Homo sapiens: one gene and its partners. The protein of the gene in region 2 purifies or fractionates together with the protein of the main gene of each other region. This does not show direct contact. Each region holds a gene or a part of one and is shown on either strand. Other genes may lie near its edges. The genes, in order: FIRRM, MGARP and ZER1.

Region 1 (3,753 bases), on a different chromosome or scaffold from region 2:
CGTGGTGGCAGGCGCCTATAATCCCAGCTACTCAGGAGGCTAAGGCAGAACGATCCCTTGAACCCGTGAGGCAGAGGCTGCAGTGAGCCAAGGTCATACCACTGCACTCCAGCTTGGGTGACAGAGTGAGACGCCATCTCAAAAAAAAAAAAAACAAATGACATATAACTGTTAGGTCCTGAGTACTATTAATCTTATAATTTAGGACTACTATAGTTAAATAAAATTGAGGGCTAGTCTGAAAGCAAAAGGTACTATGTATAACAGTGTTACAGGAAAATGAGTTATAATTCCCAATAATCGTACTACAAATTTTTAGAATATAATGTTTCATAAATGGGATACCAATTCAACACTCTAACTTTTCAAAATAAAAACAAATGTATGACTATATCAAATTTAAAAGACTGATACATACATATACATGCACAAACATACTTGTATCCCTAAAGGTCGCAATGCGTTGGTGAAGAAAAAATGCAAGATTGATTGCAGCTATATCAGATCTTATACAAATATGAACAAAAGAATTTTTGTTCTCATGCAGAAAAGAATGAAAGGATTCTGAGAAGAATGCTGTGACCAACCAGTTACCAAGCAAAGAGGGAGCCAGGCAGACCCCAGAGGCAATGACAGCAGTTAGGAATCTAATACAATGCTCTGGGTGAAAAGTAATTATGGGATATAAATAATCCCACAGATCAAAAAAAAACACCCAAATGAAATAAATTAAAATCCTCTTAAATAGACTGACCCAGACATTCAAATGAGATTTACTAACTGCCAAAGAAAATAAGAGTTGCTGTTTAAAATGCTATTAGCCCAAATTTTACCTGTGCATCTGACTGTGTCATCTGCTCAGCTAACTGTAAACAAGAATGGAAGGAGAAAAGAATGTCTTCACACAAGCTAGTAATTATATCTTTGTGTTTCAACTGGCTTTTTATTATGGACTGGTGCTTAAGGCTCTGCCTAAATGAATAAAAAGAAAAGAATACAATCACCACAAGTAACACATCAAGTAACTTAGGACCTCTAACAATATCTACCTTGTAGAACATTTAAAAAAACAATCAAAAAGCATCATATATCACATAATATAACTAAGATGTGCCCAGTTTACCTCTGAAGCAGTTATATTTGTTTAAATAAGTTGCTAATTTTTTCTCTGTGTAAAATATTAATTGAATTCTTACTATGTATGAGGCATTCTACCAGGCCCTGGAGACAAAGGGGTCAAACAAATGGACACAATCTCCGCCTTACCTGCATGAAACTTGTGGTCTAGCATGAGAGAGAATGTTAAATAATTTTAAGAATAATTAATTAGGGCTGTGATTTGTCAAATGACAGAGTCTAAGGTGCTACAATAGAGAGACCTAATCTAACTTATTCTTAGGGTAAGGATATCAATCTAACTTAATCTTAGGGTAAGGATATCAAAGAATGTTATCATGAAGATATAACTCTTAAGCTGAGAACTGAAAGACAGTAAGCAGGAGTTAGCAAGGTACACAAAATAGGAGAGAGAAGCATCCTAGGCAGATGGAAAAACCACGAAAAGACTCTGGGACAGGAGAGTTTGGTATGTTTGAGGAACTAAGAGTAGGGAGAGCAGCATGAGACAGGCTGGTGAAGGAGGCAGCATCCACAGAGGATTAGGTTGTTATTCTTAATCAAATGGGATAGACTTCAAGCAATAGAGTAACATGATCTGATTTACTTTTTAAAAGATCATTCTGCTGGGCAGAAAATGAACTGGAAGAGGGTAAGAGTGGAAGATAATCAGTGATGATGATAGTGATGTGGCTAATTCCTTGAGTATTAACTATGTGTCATGCACATTTCTAAGCATTTCACAGTGATGAACTCAATTCTCACTATAACCCTGTCAAGAAGTTGCTATTATTATTTCCATTTTCAGATGAGCAAACTAACGTTCAGAGAAATTAACCAAATAGCCCAAGGGCTCAGAAGGAGTAAATGATTTCAAGAATGGATTTAAGCACATGTGATACAGCTCCCAGGCAACACTCTTAACCACTGAATGGCAACTTAATGTCCTGGTAGTACAAGAAAAGTACCTAAGACCTGAAAATACACTGACCTTTAATGTTTTATGTATGTGTATAAAGTAGATATTCTTAACCATTTTTACATCTCAACCACATCTCCTCTCACCCCTAAGAATCTGATGAATGCTACAGGCACTATCCCTGGTGACCCTTTAAAATGCTTCAGTTTCAGAAAGTTAAAATTACTGTACAAATGGAATTAAGTGTGAACAACTTAAAAGTACCTAATGAAAAGATTATATTCAGTTTTAATTATAGTTATCAATTTATCTAATCCTAGAAATAGGATACTTGATAGCTGGTTAAACAACAGTAGCAGAAGAAAAGTGGTTAAGTTCTAGTCTGGCCCATGGCCCATTATTTCTGAAGTACTAGCTAACTAGGAAGAACATTTTTTTTAATTTTAGAGGCCACAGGGTAAAGAAGTCCAATTTGGCTTGAGAGCTACATGTAGAATATCTGGATTATCAGACAGCAGTGTCAGTGAACATTAAATTCACACAAAATGTTTTAAATGCAATCTAAAGAATCATGAATAATTAAGATTGGGGAATATGGAAAACATTTTCTAAAAAGTAAAAAATAACAAACAAACTTACTTAATTATAAACTTCCAAGTATTGGCATGAAATGCATGGTCCATACTGGAAATAACAGAGCAGATATCCAATAAAGAATGAATAACTGCAAAGAAAGATAACAGAACTTTTAAGACATCCAAATGTCATGGGGGTGAGTTTCTCCTATAATTAAAACTATCTACTGAACAATTTCAACATTTGATTGAATTAAAATACGTAACACAACTTGGAAACAGTTGTGTCAAAAGAATTATTTAAACTATTTAAGTGTCACACTTGTTAATGGTTTTTATAAATATTGAATATTAACTTCTGAAGTTTATACCTACCAGATGACCTAAATAAAACTAAAGATGTTCAGTGGAATAAAAGTTGTACCCTATTATAACTGAAATATTCTACAGATATAATTCTAATCCAAAATGACAAAACAAATTGCTAAGGAAAGAAAATCTAAAAAGGAAGAATTCAAATTAATATCCATGGTATTCATGCAAGGCTTTTACTCAGTCTGTGGTAGATTATTTATAAAAATGGCCACAATGACTGCCCTTTGTGAATCCACACTTTTCTACAATGACTCTGGGCTAAACGCTATGACCTGCTGTGGCCCGGGGGACAATAATAAAATTAAGGCAAGCAGAAACTTGAAAAGTGCTAGCACACAGCGACCTGCTCACACTTTTGCTACTCTTAGAAACCCTGAAACCACTGGCATCAGGTATCTGAGATAGGGTGAACCTGCTGGATGATGCACATGGCTTTCTCAAGTACTTCTGCCTCTGCCAACAGCCAGATGTGAATGAAGTCACTGAAGTCACATGGGTGAGCTAGTGCCCCAGGTGGATCAGAGAAAGTTGTCTCAGGACATCCCACCCTAAACTGCAGACTCACAGAATCATGAATAAATAAATAGTGAATAAATAGATTTTGAGGTGGTGTGTTGCAGAGCAACAGGTGCCTGATACACTGCACAAAACCAACTTACTCTCTTTATACCAAAGTTTTGAATGCAAACTTTGCCTTTATATTGTTTTTCAAACTCTTGTTCATAATCCATTAATGAGTGATAAAATCAATGAAGTGTGTTACGACCA
Region 2 (3,753 bases):
GCTCACTGCGACCTCCACCTCCTGGGTTCAAGTGATTCTCCTGCCTCAGCCTCCTGAGTAGCTATGATTACAGGCACCTGCCACCATGCCTGGCTCATTTTTGTATTTTAGCACAGATGAGGCTTCACCATGTTGGCCAGGCTGGTCTTGAACTCCTGACCTCAGGTGATCTGCCCACCTTGACCTCCCAAAGTGCTGAGATTACAGGCGTGAGCCACCATGACTGGCCTACTTTTATTCTTAATAAAGATTATATTTTGATTTAGAAAGTTTATGACAAAATGGTGAATGACTCAAGTCTTAACTTACTTAACTAAAAAATGTCTGTCATTTTAGTCCCAAAATCTCACTATTAAAACCTTTGTCTTACAGGGTTTACCTGGAGGGAATGGACATGGGGACTGGGAAGGAAAATATGCTTTTCACTTTATATATGTCTATGTTGCATTTTTTAGAAACTTATGAACAAATATGAATTTTTCAAATAATAAAACTGTGTGAAAATTTAAAACTAACAAAAATTATGGAGACAGTAAAAAGATTGGGAGGAGAGAGGGAGAAATGAGTAGGTGGAGTAGAGGGATTTTTAGGGTGATGAAACGACTCTGTATGATACTATAATTTATTCTGGATGATATTGTAATATATTTGTAAAAACAGAACATACAACGCAAAGAGTGGATCCTAATGTAAACCCTGGACTTTAGTTAATAATAATATATCAATATTGGCTTGTCAGTTTTAACAAATGTTCCACATCAGTGCAAGATTTTAATAGGGGAAAGGAGGAGGGGGTGTGAGGGGTTATATGGAAGTTTCTGTACTTTCTGCTCATTATTTTGTAAACCTAAAACTGCTCTAAAAAAAGATCTATTAATTTTTTTAATAGTTATATTAATTTTTTTAAATTTTTTTTGGAAACAGAGTCTCACTCTGTTGCCCACACTGGAGTGCCATGATGTGATCTTGGCTCACTGCAACCTCAGCCTCCTAGGTTCAAGAGATTCTCTTGCTTCAGCCTCCCAAGTAGCTGGGATTACAGGCACACACCACCATGCTGGCTAATTTCTGCATTTTTAGTAGAGATGGGGTTTCCTCATGTTGGCCAGGCAGGCCTCGAACTCCTGACCTTAGGTGATCCACCTGCCTCAGCCTCCCAAAGTGCTGGGATTACAGGCGTGAGCCACTGCACCCAGCTCCTATATTAATTTTTAAGTTAATCTTTCAAAATAATTCTTTTAAAATGTTAATAATAGTGCCTACCTTGTAGACTTGTTGTAATTATTAAATGATCCAGGAGTCTGGCATATGATAAACACTCAAGTATCAGCTATCACTATTAGCATTTATAATAAAATTATTTTTACTGAAAATCATCCATATTAATGGTATTAAGAAATGCTGACTTTACAAATACAAAAATCTTCATAATTTAGAAAGCTGAGGTTCGAATGAAATAAAACTTAAAAATAAACTAAAAAAGAAAAACCTTCATAATAGTCTAGCTAATATATTCTTATGAAAACCCTGTATTTCTAATGATTGCCACCTATTTTTCAGATGTGTATGCTTAATGACACTTAAATCTATTGCTATGTTGTATATTTAATTAATCTCATGTCCTGATCTTGACGTTGCTTTGAGCTTTACCATGAGTTGTAAAATACATGAATTCTTGAGCACTGTGGTTATATAATCACTTACATAATATCCACCAGCACTGACTGTGACGCCTACAACCAGATAATAAATCATATTTGATCCAGATGATCCAGGGAATCTGTTAGATGACATCCGGCGCAGAGATGCTAGGAAAAAAATGTTTAAACACAGTTAGCTTCACTAGTTGAGCAAAACTATTTTAAATAATTACATCTTTCAAAATTTTTCTACTCAGTGAACCTAGAATCTATTAACATCAAGTGATTTTAGCTTAAGGGAATACAGTATTACGAGGCTGGGTAATAATTCCACTTGACAGTCTCCCAATCTAATTTGATAAACACTCATGAAACCTGTCATCTTGATGCTGAGCATCATGCCTTCTTGGAAGGGGTGCAGGTGTGGGTAAGGAGAAATGACAAAAGCACTAAAAAATTTTAACAGCCAAATGAAGTGCACATTAGCAAGAGAAAGCCATGTACTATATGTACTCCACTACAGGATTCAGTGAAAATATTATTTTTTAAAAAATGAATTCAGTATGTTTATACCTAAAATGTAATACAATTTGTATTTATATGTTAAATCAAGCATTTATGTTGAAATCCATCATATTTCTATAAATCTATAATACACATGTAGGTATAGAAAGAAATCTCAATTTTTCTCTTATAAAGCAAATATGGGCAGATAAAACGTTTTTAAGCCAAATGTTGCAGAAAGGTTGTATCTGAAATAGAAGTACAATTCTGTATAAACTAATAGAAACAGATAAAGGTACTATATTATTATATTTAAACATTTATTTTGTAGTACTAACATTTGCATATCCTATAATGCCCTGGAATTGAAATTTTTACAATAAACTTAAAGTCGGAAGGAGCTTAAAGTATATACAACTCAAATTCTTTATTTTAAAAATAAAGACATAAACACATTTATGTATTCTTTCAACTAACACAGCTGAGCATCTACTACGTATTTGGAATTGTTAGAAGCATTAAGAATATAACCGTGAACAAGACAGATAAGGTCCCTAGTCTCAAGCCATTCACAGTCTAGAAGGAGGGTATGAACATACAAATAATTGTGATACAGTATGACAAATGTAATAAGTGTTAAGCCAAGCTACAGGCAGAGTAAAACTCAACTAGCTGGCCAAGGTAGTTGTCATAATAGAAGAGACCTGAGTTTTGAAGGAAAATAAGGGAAAGAGGAATGGCACTGGAGGCAGAAGGTGTAACGTATAAAAGCATGAGAGATTCGTGACCCAGAAGGTACAAAGTACAGGATGAATATCCCTTATCTAAAATGCTAGCAGTGGGTGCAGTAGCTTATGCCTGTAATCCCAACATTTTGGGAGGCAGAGGTGGGAGGATCACTTGAGCCCAGGATTTCAAGACCAGCCTGGGCAATGTGGTGAACCCCATCTCTACAAAAAAATTTTATAATATTAGCTGAGAGTGGTGGTATGTGCCTGTAGTCCCAGCTACTTTGGGAGGCTGAGGCAGGAGGATCACTTGAGTCCTGCAGTGAGCTGTGATTGTACCACTGCTCTCCAGCCTGGGCAACAGAGAAAGGTTCTGTTCCAAAAAAATAATTAAAATAAAATAAAATGCTTGGGACCAGAAGTGTTTTGGGTTTTGGATATTCTTTATTTTGGAATATATGCATACACATAATGAGATATCTTGGGGATGGGACTGAAGTCTAAACAAAAAATTCATTTATGTTTCGTATACACCTTACACACATAGCCTGAAGGTAATTTCATACAATATTTTGAATAATTTTGTGCTTGAAACAAAGTTTGTGTTAAGTACTTACATGTGAAATTTTCTACTTGTGGCATCATGTCAGTGCTCAGAAAGTTTCTAATTTTGGAACATTTTGTGTTTTAGATTTTTGGATTAAGCATGTCCAACCTGCAATTTGATGTGGCCTAACATAAAGTATAGGGGTGCAGGGACTAGTGGAAAGCTATGATTTGCACAGGGCGAATCTTAAGGCATGCTTACAAACCTTCATAGTAGCAAAATCACAACGATTTCCTGTTTATGTTCTTAGTTTGGATATAAATGGCCGTTTCTT
Region 3 (3,753 bases), on a different chromosome or scaffold from region 2:
ATGTACATGCCGGTGCCAGAATAACGGATCCATGATCAGGGAGTGAATCATCCAGAAAATCTGAATGGCCCTCCGAGGGCCTCCCCACTCCTAGGGGCTCCTAGAAGCATGCTATGCAGTCACTGAATGCTGGGAGTTCAATCTACAGGCCCAGATGGTGGCCAGGCATGGTGGCTCACACGTGTAATTCCAGCATTTTGGGAAGCCAAGACAGGAGGATCACTTGAGACCAGAAATTCAAGATCAGCCTGGGTGACATAGCGAGACCTTGTCTCTACCAAAAAAAAAAAAAGAAAAAGATTCCCAGAAGGGAAATTATTAGACAGCTGCATAGGAAACTAGAAGCCTGTGTGGGCCTGAGGACAGAGGTGGACCTGTAATAACGTCCTGAGCATTTACCGTGGGTCAGGCTTTAGGTTGGACACTTTGCAGGCCATAGTTATATCCACTTTACAGATGAAGAAACTGAGGTCTGGGAAAGTTCATTTACTTGTGTGAAGTTGCCCAGGTAGGAAGCAGCCAAGCCAAGATTTAGAGTCTAAAGCGTTTGAATCCAAAGCATTTCCCAGCAGACCAGGATTCTTGCATGAGCTGATGTCTCAACAGGGCTTCATTAAGGGCTTGTCCTGTACCCAGCTGGGAACTCTGAACTACTTGGCTTAGTTTGCCTGTTTAAAAGGGTCGCAGGAGGGGCTTAAAGAAGGTGACGAGAGTGGCCATGCCAGTGGGGCTGCTGCCCCTGCAGTGTGCGTGCGTGGAGGCTGTGTGACAGGCATGTGCACTGGGAGAGATGGCGCCTGCATCACCTAGAAGGTCTCCCAGAGAGCTGCCTTTAGATTCCTGGTTCCTGGGCACCCTTAATCTTACTGGTAGTTTAGTCAGGATCTGACCAGATACTCTTAGGAGAAGGAGGTTGCTACTTGGGGTGATCCAAGAAAGCTTCAGGGGGAGGAGGGCTTGGCTTTGAAGCGAGGATGAGAGTCCCTGTGGCCCTCTCCTGAGCCAGGCTTTTTTCTCTCCCAGGTATGTGGAGCTGGTGAACGCTGCCTGTAACTTCGAGCCACACGAGAGCTTCTTCAGCCTCTTTTCGGACCCCCGCAGCACCCGCCTCACGCGGATCCACCTCCGTGAGGACCTGGTGCAGGACCAGGACCTGGAGGCCATCCGCAAGCAGGTGAGACCTGCCCCGCCACAGCGCCAGGAGGGCCCACACCAAGCAGGGGCCAGGCTGCTCGCCTCCAGCCCAGCCATCCCCAGCCCAGCCAGTGTGCACCGTGACTGTGCACATCCCCCTTTCCAACCCACCTGTAGCCCAGGGCAAGGCCTGGGGCCGGGGGAAGGGGCAAGGGTGGTGATGATGATGGAGCTGTGCCCACTCCCAGGACCTGGTGGAGCTGTACCTGACTAACTGCGAGAAGCTGTCCGCCAAGAGCCTGCAGACACTGAGGAGCTTCAGCCACACCCTGGTGTCCTTGAGCCTCTTCGGCTGTACAAACATTTTCTATGAGGAGGAGAACCCAGGGGGCTGTGAAGATGAGTACCTCGTCAACCCCACCTGCCAGGTGCTGGTTAAGGATTTCACCTTCGAGGGCTTCAGCCGCCTCCGCTTCCTCAACTTGGGCCGCATGATTGATTGGGTCCCTGTGGAGTCCCTGCTGCGGCCGCTTAACTCCCTGGCTGCCTTGGACCTCTCAGGCATTCAGACGAGCGACGCCGCCTTCCTCACCCAGTGGAAAGACAGCCTGGTGTCCCTCGTCCTCTACAACATGGACCTGTCCGACGACCACATCCGGGTCATCGTGCAGCTGCACAAGCTGCGGTGAGCTCCTGGCCCAGAGCTCACCAGGGTGGGGTTTGGGGGGCAGGTGGGGAGGAGTAGAGGTGGGTGTTGTCACGCCCTCAGGGTTCAGGAGCGCTTGGCTAGGCAGAGGGTGGGGATGAAGACACAGTCCCATTCCTTAAACCCAGTGTTTCAGCTGGATTGGGGCTGTTTGGGGTTTCTTCCCAGAATGCCCTGGGGAAGTTGTGGCAGGAATGGGCCCTCCCCTGCTACAGACTAAAGGAGCTGGGATCTGCAAGGCAGCCCCACCCTGTACCCAGCTCCTAACCTGCACCCCCTACCCCAATCTTCAGACACCTGGACATCTCCCGAGACCGCCTCTCCAGCTACTACAAGTTCAAGCTGACTCGGGAGGTGCTGAGCCTCTTTGTGCAGAAGCTGGGGAACCTAATGTCCCTGGACATCTCTGGCCACATGATCCTAGAGAACTGCAGCATCTCCAAGATGGAAGAGGAAGCGGGGCAGACCAGGTGGGGCCCCAGCCTCCATGGCTACTGGTAGGGTGTCATTCAACAGGCATTTAGGCTGGCGCAGTGGCTCACGCCTGTAATCCCAGCACTTTGGGAAGCCAAGATGGGCGGATCACTTGAGGCCAGGAGTTAGAGACCAGCCTGGCCAACATGGTGAAACCCCATTTCTACTAAAAATACAAAATTTAGCTGGACATGGTGGCAGACACCTGTAGTCCCAGCTACTTGGGAGGCTAAGGTATGAGAATTGAAGCCGGGAGGCGGAGCCTGCAGTGAGCTGAGATCGCGCCACTGCACTCCAGCCTAGGCAACAAAGTGGGACTTTGTCTCAAAAAAAAAAAAAAAGAAAGTATTTGCCAAGTACCCCTCTGCCAAGTGCTGTGCTGGGTGCTAGAGATAAAGAAACAAATCAGGTCCTGCCCTCTTGGAGGCTGTGTGAGCTGGTGGGGACAATCAAGTCATTACAAGGGCTATGGTAGGGGCAATCCAGGGCCCCGGTGTGGCCTGAGGATCAGGAAGGAAGGAGGAGGAGGGACGCATCCTGGCTGTCCTGAAAGCTCATTCTGCCTCTGCCAGAGGAAGCGTGTTCTAGCAGAGGGAACAGCACCTGCAAAGGCCAGTAGGTGAGAGCATGAGGAGCGACAGGGGAACTACCCAACACTCAGCCTGACCAGAGCACAGTGCCATGGGGGGAAGAGGCAAGGCTGGCAGTGTCTGCCACCTATGGAGTATTGCTGGACATAGGTCGGTTCTTGGATTGGTTGGTTGAGAAGTTTGACCAAACCCTACCAGCTGTAACTGGCCACCCATAAGCCCTGGCCCCAGCCTGCTTTAATGGTGTTCAGTTGAGCTTGTCCCTTTGTGATTGTTGGTGAGACCTAAAGGTGCCATGTCCTTACTAGAATGGCAGGTGGTTTCTAAAGGTGGCTGCATTGCCCATCCTATGTGTTCCCCTACTATGTGGCTTTGCCATGCTTCCATCAGGAGGTGGTGCTTATGTCCCCTACCATTAAAAACAAAAGGAGTAGGGGATGAGGTTGGAGGGCCTAGAAGAGAAAGCAAGGAAATGCCTCACCACCCCCAGTGGGGAGGCCCAGCTCAGGCCTGGGTCCCAAGCCACTGACACCGGCACCCTCTTTCCCCAGCATTGAGCCTTCCAAGAGCAGCATCATACCTTTCCGGGCTCTGAAGAGGCCGCTGCAGTTCCTCGGGCTCTTTGAGAACTCTCTGTGCCGCCTCACGCACATTCCAGCCTACAAAGTGAGCAGTGGAAGTGGGATGGGTCTGGGCCAGGGAGCCTTGGGAGAGAGAAGGAGCTGGATTCTGGGGCTGGAGACTGAGCTGGGATCTGGCATCCCAGCCCTTGGCCTCTGCTGGGTTGTTCTGAGCGTGTCCCACCCGCAGGTAAGTGGTGACAAAAACGAAGAGCAGGTGCTGAATGCC

What was found.
Region 1: the proteins of MGARP (region 2) and FIRRM purify together in Homo sapiens (co-immunoprecipitation; 2 studies listed by BioGRID and IntAct, with this or other methods). This does not show direct contact.
Region 3: the proteins of MGARP (region 2) and ZER1 purify together in Homo sapiens (co-immunoprecipitation; 2 studies listed by BioGRID and IntAct, with this or other methods). This does not show direct contact.

The regions. Positions count from the first base shown.
Region 1 is NC_000001.11:169,805,010-169,808,762, reverse strand, and holds part of FIRRM (FIGNL1-interacting regulator of recombination and mitosis), read right to left. Parts: intron 2,760-3,753; coding exon 2,675-2,759; intron 973-2,674; coding exon 834-972; intron 1-833. UniProt on the Homo sapiens protein: Regulates PLK1 kinase activity at kinetochores and promotes faithful chromosome segregation in prometaphase by bridging kinase and phosphatase activities.
Region 2 is NC_000004.12:139,273,585-139,277,337, forward strand, and holds part of MGARP (protein MGARP), read right to left. Parts: intron 1,809-3,753; coding exon 1,705-1,808; intron 1-1,704. UniProt on the Homo sapiens protein: Plays a role in the trafficking of mitochondria along microtubules. Regulates the kinesin-mediated axonal transport of mitochondria to nerve terminals along microtubules during hypoxia.
Region 3 is NC_000009.12:128,751,230-128,754,982, reverse strand, and holds part of ZER1 (protein zer-1 homolog), read left to right. Parts: intron 1-1,023; coding exon 1,024-1,174; intron 1,175-1,382; coding exon 1,383-1,819; intron 1,820-2,133; coding exon 2,134-2,310; intron 2,311-3,455; coding exon 3,456-3,570; intron 3,571-3,714; coding exon 3,715-3,753. UniProt on the Homo sapiens protein: Serves as substrate adapter subunit in the E3 ubiquitin ligase complex ZYG11B-CUL2-Elongin BC. Acts to target substrates bearing N-terminal degrons for proteasomal degradation with the first four residues of substrates being the key recognition elements.